Linked DNA regions of Homo sapiens: region 1 is linked to region 2. The links come from fine-mapping of genetic effects on gene expression. A gene starts in region 2. The other region holds a variant in brackets. All regions are shown on one strand. Distances are between the middles of the regions.

Region 1 (10,602 bases), 49 kb after region 2:
ACACTGGAACACAGGCTGTAGTAGTCAGCGTGGCTGCCTTCATACAGCCTGGGGTCCAGCCTGACTGTGCTCAGTTCTGGTGCCCAGCCAAATGTCTCCAAAGCAGCACTCTCGGAAAACTCTGTCTTCTGGCACTGGGGGTTGGCTCTCTGGGCCAGGTCCAGGAGACAGAGGAAGCCACTGGTTTCAATCCCGCTTCTCTCCTCCTGGCTGTCAGAGTCAATGCTCTCTGCGAGGCCTGGCGAGCCAAAGTGGAAGAAGGTGGACCTGCTGGAGGAGCAGGTGTCTAAGTCATCCTCTTCCAGAGCGTCCATGGACTCACTCGAGCCACTGGTCCTGTAGCCGCGGCTCTCAGTGTTGGCTGAGTCGGACGCCTCGGACTCGGCACTGTCTGTCGTGCTGCTGGCCCCGCAGGTGCTGGGGCCCCTCCTAGCCACCTCAGGTGTGGGGCTGTTCCCAGGAGGCTGCTCCTCCTTTATGAGTGATCTGCAGGGTGCCAGTTTCACCAGGCGCCTGTCAGAGAGAGGTTCGAGTACGCAGTCCACCTCAGAGGACTCCTCTGAGTCACTGCAGGCCCTGGATTCATAGCCTGCAACACAGGGTACAGCAACAGTTACACAACAGAATTCTCCTACCTATGTGTCCTTCTAGCCCCCTGACCCCCACCCAACCCTGCCAGACGAGAAAACTGAGGGCCAGAGGGTGGCTGGCCTAAGACCGTCCTATACTGACGAACACGGGATCCGAGGGACTCCAGCTTCCATGTTCTCCCCATGCTATCAGACCGCCTGTCCCACATCTCTCTGAGCTAAAGGAGGCTGGATTAACTCCATCCCCACCTCCAAGGAGAACTGTCTGTTCATGGAAATGTGGTATTTACTTTGATTCCTCTTTGTGTGGGCAGCACTGCCCAGGTTTGCTAAGCCCCTCCCCAGACCTCAGTTCTATCCTGCCTGGGCGTCAAAGTCAGATGGGGAATCATATTTTAAAAATACAACAGATCCTTGGCCCTACCCCTGATGTACTGAGTCAGATCGCTAGAAGTGGGGCCTGAGAATCTGTATTTTTAGCAATTTTATGACGAGTACGAGGCTGCTAGGCTGGCACCATTCTAAAGCCTGGCCTTCTGGATCCATGGGTGCTATGGGCTTTGTAGGACAGTGAAAACTCATCCAGCGGCAGGTTCTCAGGAAGGATTAATGGTAGGAGGCTGGGGAGCACTGAGCCAGGTTGCAATCTCTTTATTCCTGTAAGCCTCCAGAGTGATCTTTCTCAAACTTCTCTCTGACCTCATCACACCCTGCTTAAACCCTCTGATGGCTGCCCTGCTTACGGGGAAGAGCCTGGCCTCCCCCACAACAGTTACAGACTCTCACAGTATGGCCTTGTTGCCCTTCTCACAGGATGGCCATGGCGCCTCATGCACAGTCTAGTCCTCCCTTGCCTCAAAGGATGGCCCTAAGGCCTCCTCTGCAGGCTCTTCCCCCTCTCCCAGGATGGCCCTGAACCCTCCTCTGCAGTCTAGTACCCACGACAGGATGGTCTTGACACCTCCCCTTCAGTCTAGTGTCTCCCTCACAGAATGGCGCTGAGGTCTCCTCTGTAGTCTAGCTGCCCTTCTCGTGGTGGGGCTCCTATCTCTTTTCACCATCTCCCTTTTCCCCTCTTGCAATATGGTCCAGCCCCTCCTCAGGCACCCAGTCCCCCATGGCAGCCTTCCCTGCCACGTTCCAGCCACCCATAGGGAGAGCTCCTTTCAGGTCATGGCCTTTTCCTCGGGTCATTCCTCCAGGCCCCCTCGGCCTTGAATGATCTGTCTTCCTTTTCCGTGCCTGGTTAACTCCAGCATGTTCTTCAAGATCTATTTCCAATACCTCTTCCTCTAGAGAACTTTCTCTGACAGGCAGCAGCAGTCCCCCCCACAACCCCTCCACAACAGCCCTGTTGCCACTCTGCGTTGTCTCCCTGAGCAGACTCTGAGGAGTCACCCCTCGTTCATAAATACATTGTGTAACAACAAAGGTAACAGGCTGGGCGCCGTGGCTCATGCCTGTAATCTCAGCACTTTGGGAGGCTAAGGTGGGCAGATCATTTGAGGTCAGGGGCTCGAGACCAGTCTGACCAACATGGCGAAACCCCATCTCTACTAATGTACAAAAATTAGCCGGGCGTGGTGGCAGGTGTCTGTAATCTCAGCTACTTGGGAGGCTGAGGCAGGAGAATCACTTGAACCCAGGAGGTGGAGGCTGCAGTGAGCCAAGATTGCACCACTGCACTCCAGCCTGGGTGACAGAGAGAGACTGCCTCTAAAAAAAATAAAAATAAAAACAAAGGTAACAGATACTCCAAACTCATCACTTTCTAACTGTTTTACTTATTGTATTAGTACCTATTCTCTTGAGCTGATTTCTACTTTATCCATATAGAGGAAACACTCTACAGTGGTGTGCTATTGATCACCTCTTCCCATCTCCACATTCATCATGGTATCATCATATCGTGGTAGCCTGAAATTACCCATCGTGAGAATGTTGACACCATGGAATTGGGCAATTCCTTCAAACTGTTTTTGTCCCTCTGCAGGGAGTTGTTAAGCATTTATCAGCACAGCCCTAGGTTCATGCTGCATCAATGGTGCTGAGGCAAAAGCCTGGCAGAAACTGGGAGCTGGCCTAGGAAACTGTCTTACCTGCCTTGCAGAGAAGTTCTTTTATACTTCAAGAGATTGCAAAAGAGTGCATAGGTAAGGAAGAGAAGCCAGGTCATCTACTTCCTGAACAAATAAGTGACATCTCTTTTTGATGAGAAATAATGATAATCTTTTTTTTTTTTTTTTTTTTTTTAAGATGGAGTTTCGCTCTTGTTGCCCAGGCTGGAGTGCAATGGCACGATCTCGGCTCACTGCAACCTCCACTTCCTGGGTTCAAGCGATTCTCTTGCCTCAGCCTCCCAAGTAGCTGGGATTACAAGCATGTGCCACCATGCTCGGCTAATTTTGTATTTTTAGTAGAGATGAGGTTTCACCATGTTGGCCAGGCTGGTCTCAAACTCCTGGCCTCAGGTGATCCACCTGCCTCAGCTTCACAAAGTGCTGGGATTACAGGCGTGAGCCACAATGCCTGGCTGAGAAATAATGATAAAATGCAGTGGATCTGAGAGACAATCTTAGGAAATACAGCAGGGAACTAGAGCTCTTCCACAGCATTCCTTGGTTTCAGGAAAATTTCAGATACAAAGAAAGCTTCTTTGTTTAGTATTTATGAAAGATCAATTGTTTACTAGGAAATAAACAGAGAAATAGCTCTCATCCACTTGAGCTGAAGCCTCGGCTCAATTCAATTCACCACCTCCCTTTAGGCTGCCCTTACCTACAAGGCCAGTGAAAGGGGCCTGTCCTTATTGGGGCAAGACTCAGTGCCTCACCTTCTTCTGCAGATACCCGGTGCGCTTGTTGTTTGTTTCCAGGCCAGAGGAAAATGGAGGTAACTGGGTCAACCAACAGCCTGTAGTACCCAGCAATCAGGCAGGCTAGGTCTTTTGCACTGTTGGATTCCAGCAGCAAAGTCAGAACCTTTGAAAGCAAATAGAAATCTCATGTTTATCAAGGACCAAGGGACAGTCTGAAGACTGACAACAAAGCCATGTGGGACCAACGAGAGATTCCAGGTAAATCCGGCCATGGTCCACAGGTAGGTCTCCTGGTGCCCCATATCCTCACTTGCAAGGCTTTAAATGAGGACATGCATGTACTCGTACAGACACCATCGCGTGTGTGTGTGCGCACACATACACACACACACACACACACTCTCACGCACTCACACACTCACTCACACACAGTGGGTCCTTCCCACCCAATCTATACAGTGTCTTCTGACTCCTCATCCTCTACCCCAGCGCCATATCCAAACTGCCCCATCCCACCCTGTTCATTCCTGCAGAGGGACTTGCAAGACTGAACTTAAAAAAGAAAAAGGAGCAAGAACATGTGGAGAATGAGGGAGAGGGTGATAAGAATAAAGCACCAATATTGAGTATGTTGGGATTAAATCAAAGGAGGGCAGAATAAAAGTAAGACCTTTGAGAGAGGCTCAGGAGGTACCCTGCACTAGTTACCTTTTTTTTTTTTTTTTTTGAGACAGAGTTTTGCTCTTGTCACCAGGCTGGAGTGCAATGGTGCAATCTTTTGCTCACTGCAACCTCTGCCTCCTGGGTTTAAGTGATTCTCCTGCCTCAGCCTCCCAAGTAGCTGGGATTACAAGCGTGAGCCACCACACCGGGCCCACTATTTACCCATTTTAATGCCCACCACTCAAAGCTTTTGAGCAGCAATCTGGTCCCATTCATGTGATAAAATCCTCTGGTGGGCCGGGCGCGGTGGCTCACGCCTGTAATCCCAGCACTTTGGGAGGCCAAGGCGGGTGGATCACGAGGTCAGGAGATCGAGACCATCCTGGCTAACACAGTGAAACCCCATCTCTACGAAAAAATACAAAACATTAGCCGGGCATGGTGGTGGGCGCCTGTAGTCCCAGCTACTTGGGAGGCTGAGGCAGAAGAATGGTGTGAACCCACGAGGCGGAGCTTGCAGTGAGCCAAGATCGTGTCACTGCCCTCCAGCCTGGGCAACAGAGTGAGACTCTGTCTCAAAAAAAAAAAAAAATCCTCTGGTGTTCTCCATCTACGTTTCTAAATCCAACAGGAAAGCACATGGTCCATCTCAGTTTGTGCAAAAAAACCTTTTAGGACCTCTTCAGGAAAATTTACCATTTACCACTTTCCGTTTGATAGAACAGGATGGACAATTCGTCCTCTTAAGCAGATATTGGACATTAGACTTTATTATTATTTAAAATTCATATAAACTAGCCTGGCCCCTATTTGGCCCCAAATTCCAGCAGTTGAATTCAGAATCTCTCCCCATTGTGTTACCTTGACGTCCTGAAGATACACTTTGACGACGCTCACTTTCTCAGACTCTTCCGTTAGCTCTACACGGCTGATGTTTGCAAACTCTGCCAATGTGGACATGATGTTGAGTTTGCTATTGATAACCTGGCTAATCCCATACTTGGCTCCAACTAGAAGGGCAATGTAGGATTCTCTATCCTGTAACTGCAGAGGGTGGAAGGGGAATTAGTCTCCATTCGCAAGCGAGTGAAAATACATTTCACATGTAAGCAATAATACCTCTCGCTGCAAACTCCTTGATTCCTACTTTGGATCCTAACCACCACTCCTCCAGACTATTGCCTAACTTGGACCCCATCAACAGCTAAATCAAAGTGTAAATTTATTTCCCCAAAACTCTTTCCAATATAGCCCTGAGCCACAGCCATAAACACATCTGTATTTTCACACCTATGTACCTATCTTCCTGCTCTTTGAATCCCTTCCCTGCCATCATTTCCCATTTAAATCCTGATCCTTCTTTAAAAGCTTACATCAAAACCTACTGCCTATGGAAAGCATCTGCCTGATCTCAGCCTCCTTAAGCCAGAAATCTCCCTTTCCTCTCTGTTGTTCTGTACCACTTCCTCTTACTTCTCTACTAGCACTGAACACTTATGACTTCTTATTTTAATTATTTGTATTAAGTCTCATTTTCCACATTAAGTTTCTTGACAACAGAGTCTGCATTTATCTCTATTTGTAACCCGCAGTGCCCAGCAAGCACCCTGAACCTGTTCCATGTAGCTGGTTGCTTCTCCCACTACCAGTTCTTTCCTTAGACAAGAAAGGTAAAGGGAGACTGGGGACTGGAACTGGACAGCTGGGAGAGGGTAGAATTAGCCCTTAGAAAAATTGGGAAGTTTTTCTTGTACCTTCAAAACTTTCCTTTCTGTGATCTAGTCTCTTTCCCACCTTTTGGGTCTTCTACTTAAACGAAGAATCCATCTGTGTTTCCCCTTCCCCTAACTATCTGATGCTCTTCCTTTCTTTCAAAACACTGATTCTCTTCTTCCATCTACATTGTTAGGTTAGCAGTCTGATTACATTGGCCCATCACTGTAAATGACTGAGATGCATACCAAATCTTTTGAAAGGATTTTGGTTAATATTTTTTTAAAACCCCACTCTAATTGTAAATTGGTTTTGTGCTGCAGAGTCCTGGGGCTGACAGTGCTGGAGGAAAGCTCTCTGAAACCATACCCCCGAGACACTGACTGCTGAAAGGCACAAGCTCTAGGCCTAGGCTCCAAAAAGAAGCAGGCAGGAGAATGGGAAGAGAGCAGAGGGCTTTTCTGCTTCTCGTTTCTCTTCTCAGGCCCACCCCTCATTCCTCCCTTCTGAACAATCAGAGACTCAGCTTGGCAGTCAAACACTCTTATTTTTCTTTCATGATTTCCAATTTTCCTCTTCACCTTCATATACCCAAAGCTCCAGAGTGAACTGCTTACCATCCCCTTCTGACCCAGAATGCCTTTTCCTCTCTACTGAAGTCTGGCCAAATTCAGGCTTCCTCTTGCCTCTTTCCTTAACCCCTTCTCCTCCCTATACTTACCCTGAAGCAAGCAGTGCTACCTTCTGTCTCCAAACTCCACAGCAATAGGCCTGAACCTGTCTCATGGCTTTGCTTCATTTTGTTGGGTAGCTTGTTTCATCCTTCAAGGACGGAAATCACATCTTATTCAGCCCTGCTTCCCCTAGCATCTATCACAGGGGTAGCACCAAGCAAACGCGTGGTAAATATTTTCCAGTGGTGTACTATTTAGTTTACCAGACAAATTCTAGTAC[A/G]TGACAGAGTCCTCAGGAATTTTAGGCTAAAAGACACATTGATTTTCAGAGGATCTCTAAGGTCCCTTACGTGAGTAGGATTTCACAGTTCTCTAATACATACCATTAAAGTAGCATTAAAGATTCTTCCACCATATGTCTTGAGTTCTCCGAGGATCTGTAGATAATTTAAACGTAGCTGGGCAGCAGAAATAAGTTGCTTAATAGAGAAAAAAAAACACTTGAAGTCAGAGTTATTCATTGGTCTAAAATCCAGGCAGTGTTGAAAATGTTTTTCCTAAGGTTTCACAGACGACAGCTGAGTGGGTCGGCAGAGGCACCTTCATTACCTTCTGTCGGGGTTCCAGCAAATTCTGGTTCCTCTTCATGTGGAAGCTAATGGCTTTCTTGATGTCTTTGCCTTTCATGTTTCGGAGTAAAGTTGGAGATATAAAGTTCTCTATTCCCCAGTCTTTCCTGCCATGAGACATTGGAGACAAGGAGGCCCATTTCTACAGGGTACTTGGCTCTAATGAAGAGCATAATTACATTTGATTCAGTACTTAGTGTTCCCATAATACAGCAATTACGAGCCACTTTCTCCTCCTCTCTTTTTCTTTCTCACACACACATACACACACTCTCCACAAAAATCCCCACAGGCATTCAGGAACTAAACCCCATTGATCATTCTGGGAGCTCATTACTCTTGGTGTGGTGTGACCATCTATCAGTCAGAGCAGGAGTTCTGAATCTTTTTCACTACAAAATACATGGCAAATAATGACAGCATACAAGAGAGTACAAGACACTCTCATGGGGCAACGCAGAGCTCCTGTGAATCCCCTAGGCTAAGCTTCAGCATGGTGCCAGCCTAGCAGCTTCAAAATCCCCCAGAAAATTGCTAAAACTACAGATTCTCAGGCCCTGCTGCGAGAGATTGGACTTAGTACATCAGGGGTAGGGCCAAGGATATGCTGTATTTTTAAAAATATGATTCCCCATCTGATTCTGATGCTCAGGCAGGACAGAGCTGAGATCTGGGGAGGGGCTTAGCAAACCTGAGTGATGCTGTCCAGAACAATTCTAAGCTAAGAATCAGAAGGTGCTGGAATCGTAGGACTTGAAACTGCTCTAGTGGAGACATAATGCAATAGGAACTGGTTCATATCCACGGGAAAAATTAACTTCCAAGGCATTCCCACCCCTAGAAAAGCTTAACACTGATGCTGGCAACTGATTTCCCAAGACATCTTCCCAGGAACAGGCAATTTACAAGGGAATCCTGTGACATTCCATCTGGAGTTGGCTTCTGTCCCAGAGAGAGCAGCCAGGTTCAGACATCTGGGGGAGCCAGGTCAGATTAGAGAGGGTGCAGAGGGAAATGGATGGAAAGACAACAGACAGATGGGTAGGTGGGTGACTATCAGCTTTCTGTGGCATCTGGCCCTCCTGGCCAGGGGCCAGCAAGTTATAAATGCAATGCAGCTGCCATCCCCTGCCACTCACTCTATATACTTTAAAGAGATCTTCTGTGGCTGGGCACAGGCGTAGATCCGTTCCTGGATGTGCAGAGCCGCGAGTCGGAGTGCAGAGCTACATTTCATTTCTACAGCAAAGCGCTCCTGGAGCACATCGCTGCAGCTCTAGAAGAGATTAAATAGAGCAGATGGGAAACAAAAGCAGACATACTGTGTCCCCTCGTTCTCTCGGGTGAAAGGCAGCAGGACCAGGAGCTCCGCTTTGAGAGCTGGCTCTGACAGTTCTTGGCTGTGTGACCTTGGTTAAGTTACCAAGACTCTCCAAGCATTTGGTGTCTGGTAAATGAGGATAGTAAAATCTACCTTATGTGGTTTCTGTGAGACTTAAATTAGATAATGCATATGAAAGCAGGTATAAGGCACACAGTGTTATACAAATATAAAGTATTGATGGCGTTGTTATTGCTATTATTATTATTTTCTGCCACCATTTCTGTAAGACTTGGGGCAGTCCAATCCACCTAGTCTGAGTTATCTCATCTGTAAAATGGTGATATCTGCCAAATGATTCTTTTTCTTTTTTTTTTTCTTTTCTGGAGACAGAATCCCGCTCTGTCACCCAGGCTGGAGTGCAGTGGCATGATCTTGGCTCAATGCAAACACCACCTCCAAGGTTCAAGTGATTCTCCTGCCACAGCCTCTCAAGCAGCTGGAACTGTAGGTGTGTGCCACCACGGCTGGCTAATTTTTTGTATTTTTGGTAGAGACGGGGTTTCACCATGTTGGCCAAGCTGTTCTCAAACTCCTGACCTCAAGTGGTCCACCTGCCTCGGCCTCCTAAAATGCTGACATTACAGGCGTGAGCTACCGCACCCGGCTCCAAATGATTATTTTTCATCAGAATAAAAATGGCATCATAACTCTCATCTAAGGAGGTAGAATAGGGGGAGCACCAGGCCACGGATCAAGAACCAGGTTTTGGCTCTGCCACTAAGTGAGTGACCCAGGCAAATCACACGACCTTTCCAAGACTCAGTGTCATCATTCTAAAACGAGGTTTTAAAGCACTAAGGCCCCTTTTGGCAATAAAAACTGTAATTCTAAAGATCCTAAAATGGTATTAGAAAATGTATCATCTACATTGAGGACTGAGCCTGAATTTCATTCTGATATCGCACACCTGCTAAAACAGCAACTCAGTGATGGAAAAGGGAATTCTGAGCGATGATCAGGCCCATTCTCCTTCAGATAAAGAGAATCCCTACCAGGGAGTTGTTTAATGGCCTCGAGCTCACGTTCAAAATCACCCAGTGCACCATCTTTGAGAACAACCACTGTTATTTTAGGAAGCACAGACCCAGTCACCTGCAGATAGAGGTATTCAAAGGCCACGGGGTCTTCTTTCAGGAGGTCCAGGGGGTCCTTGGGAACAAAACAGACCCTGAAGAGGCAGCGGTAGTCATGTGACTCCTCCCTTTCTACCACCTGCGATGGGTAAGGGAGATACTATTAATCTCCTAACTGCCTTTGTCCTTGCAGTCATTCCACAAAACCACTCTATAAAACACAGACAGTGAAAGACAGTTCCCAGAGATTTCAATTCTAGTGCTTCCCAAGACAGCCATAGACCTTTACTCCTAATTTGACTTTCTTTTTCCTGGGTACAAAATGTAAAAGGTTCAAAAGGGCAGCATTTCCCACTCACCTATCTTCCAGTTTCCCTTTCCAGAGGAAACTCCTGTTTTCAGTTTCTTGTGTGCCCCTTCCAGAGACAGTTTATGTATATTCATGCTTCAGTATAAGTCTATTCTTTTATCTTCCACAAATAATAATATAGTATACATACCATTCTACAACTTACTTTATTTCACTTAAACTATCTTAGGGATTTAATGTGATTTTCTTTCCCAATGCAAATGGAATAGAAGTAATTAAAAAGTCTGCAAGCAGTAAACCTTCTAATCGGTGAGTGCATTGGGTAAGAATTCATCTGCAAAGAGGAATGTTCAGGGTGGCTTTTATGAGGTTATGTATTACTCATTTCCAACTGTTAAAATCCTCCTCATCTTTGTAACAGACTCACAAAGATTTGTTGAACTAACCTGTGTTTAGCTTTAAAAAGTTGGTACAACATATTATTGAATGGTTGGGAGATTGAGTGATATAGACCGTTTGGCTGTGTTTACCCTATTCTGCCATCAGGAACCATATCGGGGGTAAGTCCCACAAGAAGGGCTTAGACACAGCAACAAATGCTTCCCTAATGGCTCAAAGGCAGCAGGTGCAAGGGAAGATCATCAGAGCTAGAAGCAAAAGATCAGGGTTCTATCAGCTGTGTTACCTTGAGAAAGTCACCTTACCTCTCTAAGCCTTTGTCTCCACATCTGCAAAATGGGGACCTTAA
Region 2 (16,223 bases):
TGGGATGGGGTGCCTTTTCAATTATTTAGATCTTTGTTAATTTCCTTTAATAATATTTTGTAGTTTTCAGAGTTTAAGTTTGACATTTCTGACCGGGCACAATGGCTCATGCCTGCAATCCCAACACTTTGGGAGGCTGAATGTGAGGATTGCTTGAGCCCAGAAGTTCAAAATCAGGCTGAGCAACATAGTGAGACTCCCATCTCTACAAATTAAAAAAAAAAAAAAAAAGTTTGACATTTCTTTTGTTGAATTAATTCCCAAATATTTTCTTTTCTTTGATGCTATATAGTGGAATTATTTTTGAAGTTTTATTTTTGGGTTGTTCATTTCAAGGGTACAGAAATATAATTAATTTTTGTATATCCTATAAACTTGCTGAACTTGTTAGTGTTAGTTCTAATGGTTTTGTGTGTGTGTGTGTGTTTGTGTGGGTGGGTGGGTGCCTTAGGATTTTCTATATACCAGATCACATCACGTGCAAATATAGATGGTTTTAATTTTTCCTTTCCTATCTAGATATCTTTTATTGCTTTTACTTACCAAATTACCCTGGACAGAACCCCCAGTATAATGTTGAATGGAAATGGCAAGAGCAGACTTCCTTGTCTTATTCCCGATCTTAAGTGCAAAGCTTTCAGTCTTTCACTATTAAGTGTTATCTGTGGGTTTTTCATAGATGCCTTTTATCAAATGGAGGAGGTTCTTTTCTAATCTTATTTATTGAGGTTTGGTTTTGTTTTTGTTTTTAAATCACGACAGGGTGTTAGACATTCTCGAACGCTTTTTCTGCATCTATTGAGATGGCATAATACATTAATTGATTTCAGATGTTAAAAGACCTTGCATACTTGGGATTAATTCCACTTGGTCACAGTATACAGTCCTTTCTATATGTTGCTGGATTCAGTTTGCTAGTGTTTTGTTGAAGATTTCTGTGTCTGTATTCATAAAGGATATTGATTCATAAAGGAAAAGGATAGTTTCCTTTTCCTGTGATGTCTTTAGTTTTGATATCAGGGTAATACTAGCCTCATCAAATGAATTGGGATGTGTTCCCTCCTCTTCTGTTTTTTGTAAGAGTTTGTGATAACTGGTATTGATTCTTATTTAAATGTTTGGTATAGTTCACCAGTGAAGCCATCTGGGAATGGGCAGACTCTACCTTATTGCTATTACTGATGAGTTTGATATTACCACCTGATATGGTTTGGCTGTGTCCCCACACAAATCTCATCTTGAATTGTAACTCCCACAATTCCCATGTGTCATGGGAGGAACCTGGTGGGAGGTGATTGAATTATGGGGTAGATCTTTCCTGTGCTGTTCTCAGAATAGTGAATAAGTCTCACAAGATTGGATGGTTTTAAAAATGGGAGTTTCCCTGCACAAGCTCTCTATTTGCCTGCTACCATCCATGACTTGCTCCTCCTTGCCTTCCGCCATGATTGTGAGGCCTCCCCTGCCATGTGGAACTGTAAGTCCATTAAACCTCTTTTTCTTCCCAGTCTTGGGTATGTCTTTATCAACAGCATGAAAATGGACTAATACACCACCTCATGAGACCTTGTGCCAGTTATCAATGTATTGTCTCTCAGGTCCAAATTCATCCTTCACTGACTGCTCTGAGAAAATGGATCTGAGCCTTAAATTTTTTTTCCTTTGTTCTCTTTCGTGATGATATGCTTTATAGGTAGAAGGCCCTGAAGAGGCGTTTCAGGAGGAATGGGTTTTGCTTCCTGGTCCAGTTGTGCTCACTGGCACACTTCTGCAGCACAGCAGCTTCTCCAGCATCTGTTCCTGCTTTGATTGGTGGCCAGAAACACTCAGCAGCCAGCAGTGTTCCTTAGCACCCTATTGGGCAGTTTTATAGCAGAGGCTTCCAGGAGACCCCTCCCCATGAATACGTTTCCTCAGCAACGTAAAAGTGCCAGAAAATTCTAGAGGGTGGATTTATAGGAAGTTCCACTGGAAGATTCCCAGTGACTTCTTGCCATTTAATGAGCCACAGCCACACTCTCTTCAAAAGGGTCTCAATCTGCCCTGGCTGGAGGCGAGAGGCTCCTCTTTGGGAACTCTATCACAGCATTAGAGTAGCAGCTGTTCCTTATATCTGCTATTGCTATACTCTTTAAAGCTCTCTAGTTCTTATTAGCCAGTGCTTCATTATTCTAATACCCTGTTATAGCTAATAATTCCTCATATATTAAACTGTCTTTATTCAAATGAGCATGGTTTGTCTTCTGATTAGACCTTGACTGATGAAGATATCTTAAGCTTTTCCATGGATCCATCTATGCCTGGACCTTGTATATAGAAGGAATTCAATGAATACAGTCCCTTAATAGCATCATGACACACAGTTTTCTTATGTAGTTGTCACAATTTCAGGCCCTTTCATCCTTACATTTATTGAGCAGTTATTGTCTGTGTTCAGGAATCTTGCTGTGTGGCAGGAGATAAGAGGAGAGAATCAGTAGCTAGAAGAATACAACAGCTAAAGTGGCCTTGGTGAATAGTCCAGAATGATAAAAAACTTAGATCACTAAAAAAAATTGCATGAGATGACACTGCAGAGATAAGGTAGAGTCAGATGATGACAGGCCTTGACTTCTATTGGGACAGGCAGTTTGCTGTGGCCTTGAGCATCTCTGCATGTGCTTGCGAAGTATGCCAAACACAAGGCCTAACTTTCCCCTAATACTGAACCATTTCTAGCTAGTCACATCGGCATTTAACTAGGTTAAGATGACCACAGCATAACTACCATACAACAGCTCACTCCCTCAGGGAAGGAGGCTGGTTGGTTTGCCACTTGCTACAAAAGATGCTAGGCCCTTAGCCCTGGATCCCTCAGTCATGGTGCAAACCACTGCATGTGCAACCACTGTCCGGGCCCATTGCATTTACTCCATAGGACTTGAGGACAGGCCAACCAGTGCTACCTTGCTGGTACTCCTACTGTATGCTGTGTTGAATAATAAATTTCTTCATCTGATCCACCAAATCTCATCTACATTGGTACCAATGGAGTTGTGGCTGGTGAACCTGCTTTCTTGCTTAGTCGTCTCCGTTGGAGTCTTGTTATTTCTTGCTATTCTCTAGGAGGTTGGGGCTCTTCTCTAACAAAGGGTGCCATGACACAGGCACACACACACACTACAAAATGAAAATAAACATGAACTAGAAAGATGTTTCCTTATTCAAGAAATGCAGATAAATGGCAAAGCTGTTGGAAACCAGAAAACCATGTAATTTTGAGTATTTAAAATCAATCCTGTATTGTGATACACTAAGACCAAACTTGAATGTTATTCCACATAAGAATCTAGCCAACAGAATGTAGTTCAGATTTGGGAAATGATGGTGAGGAAACTATATTTTATGGAATTGCTAATACATTTAAAACAGTAGTTGGTAAGAAAAAAGCGTGTTCTGGGCCAGGTGTGGCGGCTCACGCCTGTAATCCCAGTACTTTGGGAGGCCGAGATGGGCGGATTACCTGAGGTCAGGAGTTCGAGACCAGCCTGGCCAATGTGGCGAAACCCCGTCTCTACTAAAAATACAAAAATTAGCCGGGAGTGGTGATGTGTGCCTGTAGTCCCAACTACTTGCGGGGCTGAGGCAGGAGAATCGCTTGAACCTGGGAGGCGGAGGTTGCAGTGAGCCAAGATCAAGTCACTGCACTCCAGCGTGGGCAACAGACCAAGACTCCGTCTCAAAAAAAAAAAAAAAGTGTTCTTTTACTTTTTACAATAAATCCTGTTTGAGAAGTTATGATCCTTGTGTAAAAATATCTGTAGCAAGTAGTCTGTCATTTGTGCAGTGATAACTGTGGGCATTTATGTTTTTAGATTAAATCCTGTATTTGAATAAAGATGTTAACAATACTTTCATGGGCTTTTATGGTTAATTTCAGTATGTAAATTAGCATGTAGTTCATTTATAATTTTAGAAACTAGTAAAGTAAAAAATATTAAAGATTCACTCAAATTATTACTTCCTTTGTAACACCTATCCTAACCCCTGCCTTCCTTCCATGTAGAGACAACTATTTCATCCTCTGTACCCTCAGGGCTGACACTCTATTCAGGTTGTTGCATCCACCTTAACACTTGCTATCTTCATGTGGAGAGAGTGAACTCCCCCAAGGGCAGGGACCAGGACTCAGCCGCCTCCCCAGCTCAATTCCTGGCTGAAAGCAAATGCTCAACTAGTGTTGGTTAAAAGGAACAAATGCCCAACCTCACCAGTCGGTAAAGAAAAGCAACCGTGAGATGCCACGTTTCTAACTTCTAAACTAGCAAAGATTAGTTATGAAGAGGAAGTTCTGGGAGGAGTCCAGAAAGCTACACTCTGGTCCAACCTTTCCAAAGGTCAATTTGGCAATTTCCCCATATGTCATACTAATGTTGTGTAACCCCAAATTCAGTCTCATGTACCTGATGCAGAGCTGAAGCCAAACGCTAAGACACAGGTGCTTGGAGATAGAGAAAGGTTTGTTCAATTGGGCCAAAGCAAGAAGGCGGAAGAGCAAGATCTCTCAAATGTTACTTAACAAAGAGATGACAGCAGGCGTTTTTATGGGGTAGGGTGTGAGGGAGGGTTTCCGGGAACAGAGGGGAAAAGTCTGTGCCTCTACAGTCTCAGATAAAACTTTGAGCAACCAGACTTATGGGTGTCAGCAGCTGGTCAAAAAGTCCTTAATGGCATTCATTCCTTCTGCAAAATATTTTCATGACCCTGAAGTTATCTCTCCTGCTAGACAAAGAAACAGGACAACAGCAGTTTATAATTATATTGTGGGAACAAGAGATATTGGGCAAAACGGGAGCGCTTACTATGTGCATGCAGGCAAGGGCCTGATCAGAATTTTCACTACGGCCGGGCGCGGTGGCTAACGTCCGGAATCCCAGCACTTTGGGAGGCCGAGGCAGGCGGATCATTTGAGGTTAGGAGTTTGAGACCAGCCTGGCCAACATGGCGAAACCCCCTCTCTACTAAAAATACAAAAGTTAGCCAGTCATGGTGGTGCATGCCTGTAATCCCAGCTACTTGGGAGGCTGAGGCAAGAGAATCGCTTGAATTTAGGAGGTGGAGGTTGCAGTGAGCCGACATCGTACCACTGCACTCCAGTCTGGGCGGCAGAGCGAGACTTTGCCTCAAAAACAAAAAACAAAACAAAACAGAAAAAAAAAAAACACCAAACGGAATTTTCAATACTTCAGTTACTAAAAATGCCAGACTACTTAAATCTCAAGGGGCCTGGTTACACTCCGAATGGGGAGACGTAGGCCAGAGGCACTGGAAAGGTGAGCAGTCTCGACTGCTTCGGCTCGAAACCAGTAAGCCTCTGAAGAGAACGGGCGTAATCCACCTCGCGATTGGCAAGGAAACACACGCACCCGCAGAGGGCAAAGCGCGCACGCCGCCTGCACCGGGCTCTGGCCTCCTCTGCATTCCCCAGTCGTTGCACTTTTCCCACTTTTATAACCAGGAGAGGAGGCACGCGCTGCCCGAAAACGCGAACCGCGACCCATGGGACGCTAGAACCGACCCGCGCGCCCTCGACGGCTTGAAGCCGGGTTCGAGACACTCGTTCGCGGCCTAGGGCTCCCGCCGCCTAGGACCGGGTGCTCACTCTCGACAGGGCGCAAGACCGCCAGGTGGCGAAACACCTCCTCGGTTGCGCGCGGTCTGGTGGGCAGGCTGCGGTCCCGCGTGCCCCACCCGCTCTGGGCGTGTCAGGGTGGTAGGTGTTCAGGAGTGGAGCCCCGCCCAGCCACCGCCTTCGGGTCCCGGCCTCCCTGTTTCATCTGCCTTGACCCGCGAGAGAGCTACACCGCTCGCCACGTGCGGCCTCCACAGGGTAGTGGGCCTCATAGGACTCAGCCGCTAGATCTGGGCCGAGTTTCCTCCAGAGACTTCACTACCGACATGGGGTGTATCAAAGACGGTCCAGAGAACATTTACCGACCTGCCTGTTTGCCTGGCCGGAATGTGAGGTCCTTGAGCGCCCTTGAGCCATGGCCTTGGGCCTGCCAAGATTGAGGCAGGCGTGGTCACCGAATACTTCTGGAGTGGGGAAGAGAGCACAATTTACGCTGTCCCTGCCACAGGAGCTCCCACTCTTGCCAGGGAAACTAACCTGGAGGTGGGAGCTCCTTTTATTTGTTGACCTTTTTTTATACCCAGGGGAAAATGGCTTGCCAAATTTGGAGGGTGTGTTAGAGATGATCTGTCTTAATCATCCTAAAAAATCTAAAAATTCGGCCGGGCTTGGTGGCTCATGCCTGTAATCCCAGTACTTTGGGAGGCCAAAGTGGGCCTATCGCTTGAGGTCAGGCGTTCAAGACCAGCCTGGCCAGCATGGTGAAACGCTGTCTCTACTAAAAATACAAAAATTAGCCAGGTGCGGTGGTGCACTCCTGTAATCCTAGCTACTCGGGAGCCTGAGGCAGGAGAATTGCTTGAACCTGGGAGGCGGAGGTTGCAGTGAGCCGAGATGGTGCCACTGTAGTCCAGCCTGGGCGACAGAGCGAGACTCCGTCTAAAAAAAAAAATCTAAAAATTACGTTGGAAGCAGGTGCCTCAAAGAGATGAGCAGTAGAAAGGGAGGGCCGCTAAAGGCAATCGGTCAGTCACGGCCTCCCAGACCCTAGGAATTCTACCACTGCTGGAGAATCTGATCAAGCACTAATTGAAGGTTCGAGTTGACAGAGAAAACGGTGATTTAAAATAGAACCCCCAAAGTCAGATAGATGATTGGAATCTCTTTGGGTTTGGAATTCAACTGCTTCTCACGTGCGCAACTAAGTGTGCTCCAGGGAAATTTGAGTTACTGATATTCCAGGCCATGTAGGGCTATCGGAAGCATGTGAAATATGTATATTTGCAGGGGGAAAAAGTCTAGGGAGAAATACACACCAAAGGAATACATTCGTTCATTCATCAGGTATTACCTATTTCATGCCACACCTTGGGCTCTAAAGAATCAGAACTACAGTGTAGCAAGGGAGAAAAACGGGCAAGATTAAAACATCGTTTATTTTCTTCTTTTATTTTTCTCTGTGTTTTCTAAATGTGACTAGATCTCTAACAACCAAGAAGGTTTTATTTATTTTGAAAAAAACTACTTTTCCTGTTAAAAGGTCAGCCACTCTTCTGAGGGCGGAGTCGGAAAGAAGGTCCCATGAACCCACCTAGCGTCCAATTTCCCTTTTTTTTTTTTTTTTGACAGGGTCTCACTCTGTCCTCCAGACTGGAGTGCAGTGGCACCATCTAGGCTCACTGTAACCTCCGCCTCCTAGGTTCAAGTGATTCTCCTGTCTCAGCCTTCCGAGTAGCTGGGATTACACGTGCGTGCCACCACGCCCGGCTAATTTTTGTATTTTTAGTAGAGACAGGGTTTCACCATGGTGGCCAGGCTGGTCTTGAACTCCTGACCTCAAATGATCCACCCGCCTCGGCCTCCCAAACTTCTGGGATTACAGGCGTGAGCCACCGCGCCCGGCCCCAGCGTCCAATTTTCAAAGCCCCTCTGCTCAGCTTCCAGAGATCCCAAGAAACTCTTAAGTGGAAGTATCTCGTATCCCCACGATGCGACCGGTCACAAAACACGCGACCCGAGACACTGGAAGTGGAGGCTTTTCGATGGACCAAGCTGCGCGGTTTTCATACCGACCCGCGGCCAGGCTGTCAGATAGGTGGCCGGCCACAATCACTGCCACCTTGGACAGGGACCCGTGAGCTGACGGCCATCAAGCTTCATAAACTGGTCCGAATCCAACGGACCGCTACTGCCGGAAACGGAAAGTCCTCAAGGGCGGGTGTTGGAAGCGGAGCGGAAGCGGAAGGCGGGTACCGGAAACGGTGTTTGGTGGAGCCCGCGATGGCCGAACCTGCGTCTGTCGCGGCTGAATCTCTCGCGGGCAGCAGGGCGCGCGCTGCACGCACAGTACTAGGTCAGGTGGTGCTCCCGGGTGAGGAGCTGCTCCTGCCGGAACAGGAGGACGCGGAAGGCCCTGGGGGTGCAGTGGAGCGACCGTTGAGCCTGAATGCTAGAGCGTGCTCGCGGGTGCGCGTTGTATGCGGTCCGGGCCTTCGGCGCTGTGGGGACCGCCTGCTGGTCACCAAGTGCGGCCGCCTCCGTCACAAGGAGCCCGGCAGTGGCAGCGGCGGCGGTGTTTACTGGGTGGACTCTCAGCAGAAGCGGGTGAGCTGGGACTCCGGAGGGGTGGTGCGGCAGTGAGAGTGGTAGCCCTGCTTTGAGAAGACCTCCCAAAAGAAGAGAGGGACCCTGAGGCCCTCTTTTGTTCAGGCAAACCTAGAGCCACCGTAGTCTTGTGCCCACTTCTGCATGTCCTTTAGAGGGACCGTGAACAATAGGAACATAGCCTGAGAAGGGCGACCAGGAGAGAAAAACGTTTGGAGACCGTGAGTCATGATTATAGTCTTCAAAACCCCACAGCAGGCCTGCCGTTTGGAGTCTCAGAGGGCAGGACTAGGCTCAATGAGTGGATGTCATAGGGAGTTAATTTCTCCTAGAACAGGTAAGAATTTCATATAGAAAAAATTGTCTATGGAATGGGCTTCCTTGGTTGTAAGGATTCCTTTGCCACTGGACTTATGCCACAAAGCTAGAGACTTACTGGTTGGGGTGCCTAAGAGATAATGGAGTTTGGACTCAATTAACAGACTACCAGAAGCTGCACACCCGGCACTTTATGAAGTGATTTTCTTTTACCGAAAGTGGCATTTGATCAGATTTCTCTTTAATGACAATAAAGTAACCACAAAGGACTTGCTGAAGGTATCTTCCAATGGTATCTTGTCATTTATGGCTGTTTTTTCATTCTGTTTCTTTTTGTAGTATGTTCCAGTAAAAGGAGACCATGTGATTGGCATAGTGACAGCTAAATCTGGAGATATATTCAAAGTTGATGTTGGAGGGAGTGAGCCAGCTTCTTTGTCTTACTTGTCATTTGAAGGTGCAACTAAAAGAAACAGACCAAATGTGCAGGTAATTACGGGAGCCTTTGGTTTCAAAGAAACAAACATCCATTCCCTAGAACACTCACATATCCAGAAGGCTATCTGAATTGTCTCCAAAGCATGACCTAGATCTCTGAGCTTGTATATAATTGCCCCAGGCTCCAAGAGTTTCTTCAGATGCTCCAGGATCAGAGCCACATAATTATTATTATTATTTTTTACATTTACAATTTATTTTACATTGGCTACATTTGTTCTTGGGATGTTTCATTTCTACTGAGTTGAAAGGTTGTATCTATCATCGCCATTATTTGTTATGTCCATATCCTCTGGACAAGGATGTCTGCTGTAGGCTTAGAGGAGGGACAGGTGGTGCAAATTGACATTATCAGCTATCCATCCATCCTGGCTGTAGGTCCTAGGAGCTGATAGAGGAGTAATATTGTTACCTTGGGTTTTCAATTTGAGCTTTTCAGGTAGCATAGCCACACTCTTCTTGTCTATCCAGCCTGAAATTTAGTGATTTCTTCACCTCTTCTCATTCACTTCTCATGCAAATTTAGTTGCTTAATCCTATTTTGATCCTATTTGATTCTGTCTCTGATCTTTGGCATGTCCGTCCCTTTATCTCCACAAGTTCAGGCTTCAGCTCCCTCTTGACTGGTCTCAGTCACTTCTTCATTAATCCCTGCCTCCACGCTTTTACCTCACCATCCAGGATTTTGAGAGCTGACATCCTCACACGGTCACTTTCTCGAAAAGACAAGATTCTCCAAAATCTACAGAATTCCTTGGCATTACACTCCAGGTGTCTTTCCTCATCCCTAATTATATCCTTCATACAGCCATACTCAAATCACACCAAACGCCATTAAACTCAATTTCCTGCCCTTATTTGCACATGCTGTTCCCACTGTCTTGATTGCACTATCCCTTCGCACCCTATGGAACACATTCTCATTCTTTGAGACGTAGGCTAAACATGACCACCTCTGTAAAGCCATCTCTAGTTGCCACTTTTCTCGTATCTTTGCTCTAGCACTTACTGGATTGAGCCTTGACTGAGGTTTGTTTATATGTACCTCCCCACTGCCCTCCAAGACCAAATGCTTCTGAAAAGCAGAGAATGTTTTGTTCCTTTCTAGTTTACATAGTCACCAACAAACAGTAGGTACTTAATACGTTTTGTTGAGTGAACAGAATGAGTTCACTCTCCATTTCCTCAGTTTCGTCCCTTTGAAGTTTAGCTCTATGAGGTTTTTAAGTAAATCCTGCAGGGAGAAGTGTCAGTGAATTATTGTTTGATTTTGCTTTGAATAATTTGCATGCCGGAGTTCCTTCCTTTCTCTGTAAATCTGTAATTCTCTAGGGTAGTGCGACCTAATATAACTTTCTACAGTGATGCTGTTTTGTATCTGCACTGATTAGTATGGTAGCCACTAGCTGTTGAGCACTTGAAATGTGGCTAATGCAACTCAGGAAATTAATTTTAAATACCTAATTTTAATTTAAATGTAAGTTTAAACAATTGGCTATCTACCATATTGGACAGTGCAATCCTAGTGTTCTCTGGCCTTGAGATGGCTCCTCGTCTGTGATTTCCTGATTGGTGAAAGGGAATGATACATGTGTTCCTTTTTTTCCCCAAGACTCAACTCCAAAGTGACTGTGGGAATCCTATAGTGCAGTCAGTCCCTTAGCCACAGAACTGTAGGTGGCTGGCATTGATGCCTGTGAGAAAGAACCAATAGTAGCACCTGTAGTTTGCTGAGAGGAAATGAACTGGTTTTTAATATCATTGTAGGTTGGAGATCTCATCTATGGCCAGTTTGTGGTTGCTAATAAAGACATGGAACCAGAGATGGTCTGTATTGACAGCTGTGGACGAGCCAATGGAATGGGTGTCATTGGACAGGATGGTCTGCTTTTTAAAGTGACTCTGGGCTTAATTAGAAAGTAAGTCCTGATGTCTGCTGGCTTGACTGCTTTTTATAATTATACATTCTTGGAAAGTTGGTTAATCTTCAGGATTCAGATTCTTTGTAACGTTTGAATTTCTCCTCAGAGTTAGAAATCAGTATCCATTTTAACACATTTGGAAACTCATGAATTTAATCCTATCTTCTTGGAAACATATCAAATTCAGATGTGTTTGGCTGTGTAGTTTCTGGTGGGCTGATACTTCATGCCTTAAGCTCTTACTCTGTATTCATATCTTCCTTCCCAGGCCTGTTGCTTATTTGACTTAGCCCAAATGTGAAAACTGGCCTTTCCCCTGTTCTGAGTCACTTGAATACAGATGCAGTCTGCAGTTGTATAAAATTATCAATTTTTTCTAATTATGGGGGTCACACGCAGCTTAGATTGTGATGTTCAAGGTTATGTAGACATTCACAGAAGGCTTCTGACACTTGGTCATACTGAGGCATACTGAGGTTCATGCTGAGGCAGATTCTCTTTTTGGTGTTTAGAACTTTACCCACCCAAAGCTGTGCCATATTCAGGGGCTTTACTCCTAGAGCCAGTGAAGTTGAGAGCTATCTTGTATGCCTCTCCTTACTACATATCCTAAAGATCTGGAGAATTAAGTTTGGACATCAGAGAAGCATGTTTTTAACCAAGAAGCATGTTATTAACCAAGCACCACCCTTATGGTTTGAAAGAGCCAATGTTCCTCTCCAAGTACTGAATTTAACACAAGAGAATAATATGGCCAGGAAAATAAGTTTAAAGTGTCTTAACACTGTAGATAAAAAAAGTTATGATTCCCAGTCTAGAATTAAAGTGCTCTGACCATCTAGGGGAATGACTTTTACAAAGTTGGTAACCTAGGGAGTTTGATTTCTTTGTAAGGCATAGCCCACCTCTGTGATTTCTAGTATACCTTTGAACAGTGTAAAGTTCCTTCTTGGAAGAAAGGAGGCAGCAAATGTCATCACGTGCCTTGTTCTTGTTGAACAGCTATGGAGAACTGCTCAGAAAAGGAATCACATTCTAAAGGAGACTCCGGACACACCTTTGCCACTTCATTAAATTTCATTTTCTTTTCTCTTCCCACCAGGCTATTAGCTCCAGATTGTGAAATCATACAGGAAGTGGGAAAACTCTATCCACTGGAGATAGTATTTGGAATGAATGGAAGAATATGGGTTAAGGCAAAAACCATCCAGCAGACTTTAATTTTGGCAAACATTTTAGAAGCTTGTGAACACATGACGTCAGATCAAAGAAAACAGATCTTCTCCAGATTGGCAGAAAGTTGATATAGGTGGACTTTTTTACAGGTCAGTTGAGGCAAAAAACTATGGGTTTTTTCAGGTGAACCTCCCCCATTTAAATACTCAGAAGATAAGGTGTGAATGTATGTATTATTAGAGTCCGAAAGTATTTTTATAAGTTACTGGTTTTCACCCACGCTTTTGTGGGAGAGAAAATCATTGCAAAATCATTTTTTTTGTTCGGTACAATAAAGTTTACTAAAAAACAGTATTAGGGTTTATTTGGAGTTAACTCCCTTAGTAATTGCTACAGCTTCCATAATTAACTGGAGGTCAGCAGTAAAATAATTTTGTGATTATAACAGTAAGCCAGGTTCACCAGAGGAAATGTGGAATACCTAAGTATAAAGCAGCAAAGAAATGTCACCTGTAGTCCCATTATTCAGCGGGTGAGTATATAACAACGAAATACTTTTTCATTTACCAAGTATTGTGTTTTGCATGGATTAACTCCTTTATTCTAACTGCAGAAGACACTTATCCTCATAATTGAAACTGAGGCACAGAATTTAACTTGGCCTACATTCTCTATATTCATCAAATTGAAATTATAGTTATTATAGCTTATATGCCACTTTGTAATATACTTTTGTCTACTTCAAACAGCATGATACATTTCACAACTTTAGTCACATATTTCATGTTACAGGATATTTTTGAGTTTTATCATTATATAAATAACACTATGAGGATTTCTGAATCCAAATCTGGCCAAGTCTTATTTTGCTAAAATCATTTCCTAGGAGCTAAGCATAGAAAACTCTTCTATGCTATTTAGTATATTAACCAAAACCTTTAGAGGTAAAGAGACTGCCAGGTGATCCACATCAGTGATTCTTGGTTTCTAGACCTCTGAGAATATGTGAGATACAGATCCCCTGAAGCCTATCCATAGAAAGTCCTTTTTGGATCAAAGAGATTATAGAACTCTATTTGTTGATAAAGACCAAGGAGCTTCGTGTGTTTCTAATGTTTTCTAAGGACTGGATGGTTTTTAGTTCAATAGCTTTTAGGGGTACAAGTGGTTTTGGATTACACGGATGAATTGTATAGTGGTGAAGTCTGAGATTTTGGTGTACCAGTCACCTGAGTACTATATATTGTACCCAGTATGTAGTTTATCCTTCCCCCTTCCCTGTTCCGGGTCTCCAGTATCTGTTATACCACTCTGTGTGCTTACCTGTAGCTTAGCTCCCACTTAAAGTGGGAACATTTGGTATTTGGTTTTCCATTCCTGAGTTACTTCACTAAGAATAATAGCTTCCAATACTATCCAAGTTGCTGCAAAAGACATTTTTTATGGCTAATATTCCATGGGATATATATACCACACTTTATCCATTCATTGGTTGATGGGTACTTAGGTTGGTCCCATATCTTTTATTATGAACTGTCTAGCCAGTTTTTAAATAGAAAAGTACTGATTAGGTGAACAGTTCCTTAGGAATTAAATTGTGAAGGGGAGGGGACACAGCAGAGAAGTAATCTGTTGGTTCTTTTGAGATATTGAATACATGTCCCAAATTTGCTAGCTGCTTAACTAGCAAGTTAACCCAAACTGTCAGAGTAACTGAAGCAAATATGTCCAACTGGGACATAAGGAACATGAGATTTGTGTAATAAGTAGGTTATCTAACGTGTTCATGTGTCTAACACTTTCTAGCTATTTTCAAGACAGACTTAATCAATACTGTGTTTGCTTTCCAATTTAATCTGTTACAAATACATATGAAGAATCTAGTTGGTACAGGCTCAGGGAGGATAGAAAGATAGGTACACAGATTTGTCCTGTTAGGATCCTACCATTAGGAAGGATTAGGAAGAGAAGCCCTCCATGCCCATACTCTGCAAGGGAGAACAAGGTAAGAGCCACAGGAGGGAACAAAATGCTATGGGGACTCAGTAGGGATAGGTCAGAACAGGCTGGATCCTGCAAAGCTTATTACTGAGCTGGGCAACAACGAGCATGATCAGACAAGGCTGGAGAAAGTCATACAATTTTATGATGCCAGTTTAGTGAATATTAAACTCTTGATGTAACCATTTAAACAATTTCAAGAGGTCTCTCACAAATAGATGTACAAAAGTTGAATTAGCACGTCCAAAGCCATGTGGTTTTGAGGCTAATTCCTTGTTACATAATTTTTTTTTTTTTTCCCCTCGAGACAAGAGTCTGGCTCTGTCGCCCAGGCTGGATCTTGGCTCACTACAACCTCCGCCGCCCGGGTTCAGGCGATTCTCCTGCCTCAGCCTCCTGAGTAGCTGAGACTACAGGCACGCACCACCATGCCCAGCTAATTTTTGTATTTTTAGTAGAGACGAGGTTTCACCATATTAGCCAGGCTGGTCTGGAACTCCTGACCTTGTAATCCACTCACCTCAGCCTCCCAAAGTGCTGGGATTACAGGCGTGAGCCACTGCACCCACCACATTAACTTTTTATTACTTAACATATCTGAGCACTTCCTGTGAGCCAGGCACTATGGGAGATTAAAAAGCATTAAATGTGGTCCCTGACATTATTGTGAAGCTCTGAGAAGATGTCATGCAAAGACACTTGCCTATGTGCCACTGCCACCCTCTGCCCTGCTCTTTGGGTCAAGGTACCTCCAAGCGCCTCACTCCTGCAGCTGCATTTTTTTTTATTTATTTTTTTTTTGAGATGGAGTCTTGCTCTGTCACCCAGGCTGGAGTGCACTGGTGAAATCTCGGCTCACTGCAACCTTCGCCTCCCGAGTTCAAGTGATTCTCCTGCCTCAGCCTCCCAAGTAGCTGGGACTACAGGTATGCGCCACCACACCTGGCTAATTTTTGTATTTTCAGTAGAGAAGGGTTTCACCATGTTGGCCAGGCTGGTCGTGAACTCCTGACCTCAGGTGATCTGCCCACTTCGGTCTACCAAAGTGTTGGCATTACGGCGTGAGCACCTGGCCACGCAGCTGCAATCTTAGGCCCATCATTCCACTGAGTTCCGAAGAATATAGCCTTTTCCTGAAGAAACTCCTTTCTTCAATGCTTCAGGCCAGTTGTGAGTCTCTAAGTAAGTGGACAGGATATCAAACACTGTTAGAGAGTAAACAGAAAACACAGTGACCACAGAGGGAAAAAAAGAACGAGTAAATGAAAAGGATGTTCTGTAATATTTCGTTCAACAAACCTATTCTGCACCATATGTGGTACTAAGGTCTTGCGGGGAGAGGCAAGGACACAGGCTCTGCTTGCTCTCAAGGACCTCAGCCTACCCTGAAAGATACAGGCCTATGAATGGATAGGGTGCAACAGAAAGGAACACAGTAAAATGGGAAACAGAAGGGCTCTGCTGTGGCCTGGGATGGGGAAGGGCCAAGATGCTCCTGAACTGAACCCTGAAGATCAAACAGGAATTCAGTGGTGAGAGGTTAAAAGCTGGGCATTCTAGATGAAGGGGACAATTTTTTTTTTTTTTTTTTTTTTTTTTTTTTTTTTTTTTGAGGCGGAGTTGCACTCTTGTTGCTCAGGCTGGAGTGCAATGGCACGATCTCAGCTCACCGCAACCTGCACCTCCCAGATTCAAGCAATTCTCTTGCCTCAGCCTCCAGATTAGCTGGGATTACAGGCGCCTGCCACTATGCCCTGCTAATTTTTGTATTTTTAGTAGAGACGGTGTTTCTCCATGTTGGTCAGGCTGGTCTCGACCTCCCGACCTCAGGTGATCTGCCCACCTCAGCCTCCCAAAGTGCTGGGATTACAGGTGTGAGCCACCGTGCCCAGCTTTTTTTTTTGTTTTTGAGACAGAGTATCACTGTCACCCAGGCTGGAGTGCAGTGGTGTGATCTCGGCTCACTGCAACCTCCACTTCCCAGGTTCAAGTGGTTCTCATGCCTCAGCCTCTGGAATAATTGGTATTACAGGCGTGCACCACCACGCCTGACTGATTTTTGTATTTTAGTAGAGATGGGGTTTCACCATGTT

Direction of the effects. Positions count from the first base shown, and alleles are read on the strand shown. Sizes are in standard deviations (SD) of each study's normalised expression.
As copies of A replace G in region 1, the expression in monocytes after interferon gamma of the gene that starts at base 7,872 in region 2 goes down (small effect, 0.38 SD a copy in Fairfax 2014).

Evidence for each region.
Region 1: its variant is fine-mapped to the expression of EXOSC3 in monocytes after interferon gamma (Fairfax 2014, PIP 0.95).

Annotation. Positions count from the first base shown.
Region 1 is chr9:37,730,065-37,740,666 of GRCh38, reverse strand. FRMPD1 (FERM and PDZ domain containing 1) reads right to left here. Exons shown (of 16, transcript NM_014907.3): 9 at 9,564-9,683; 10 at 8,227-8,363; 11 at 7,068-7,194; 12 at 6,842-6,937; 13 at 4,933-5,115; 14 at 3,424-3,571; 15 at 1-589. Among named protein-coding and RNA genes, the nearest start is that of TRMT10B, 18 kb to the left of the region's middle. The variant A/G (reference allele first, on the strand shown) is at 6,739.
Region 2 is chr9:37,776,713-37,792,935 of GRCh38, reverse strand. It overlaps EXOSC3 (exosome component 3), which reads left to right and starts at 7,872. Exons shown (of 4, transcript NM_016042.4): 1 at 7,872-8,215; 2 at 8,873-9,022; 3 at 10,799-10,950; 4 at 12,056-13,222. The coding sequence starts at 7,892. The coding sequence ends at 12,257. It overlaps TRMT10B (tRNA methyltransferase 10B), which reads right to left. Exons shown (of 9, transcript NM_144964.4): 9 at 13,964-15,335. The coding sequence ends at 15,229. LOC105376037 (a long non-coding RNA gene) reads left to right here. Exons shown (of 3, transcript XR_929599.3): 3 at 1,694-3,890. RefSeq lists enhancers at 7,980-8,119, 7,617-8,132, 8,130-8,189.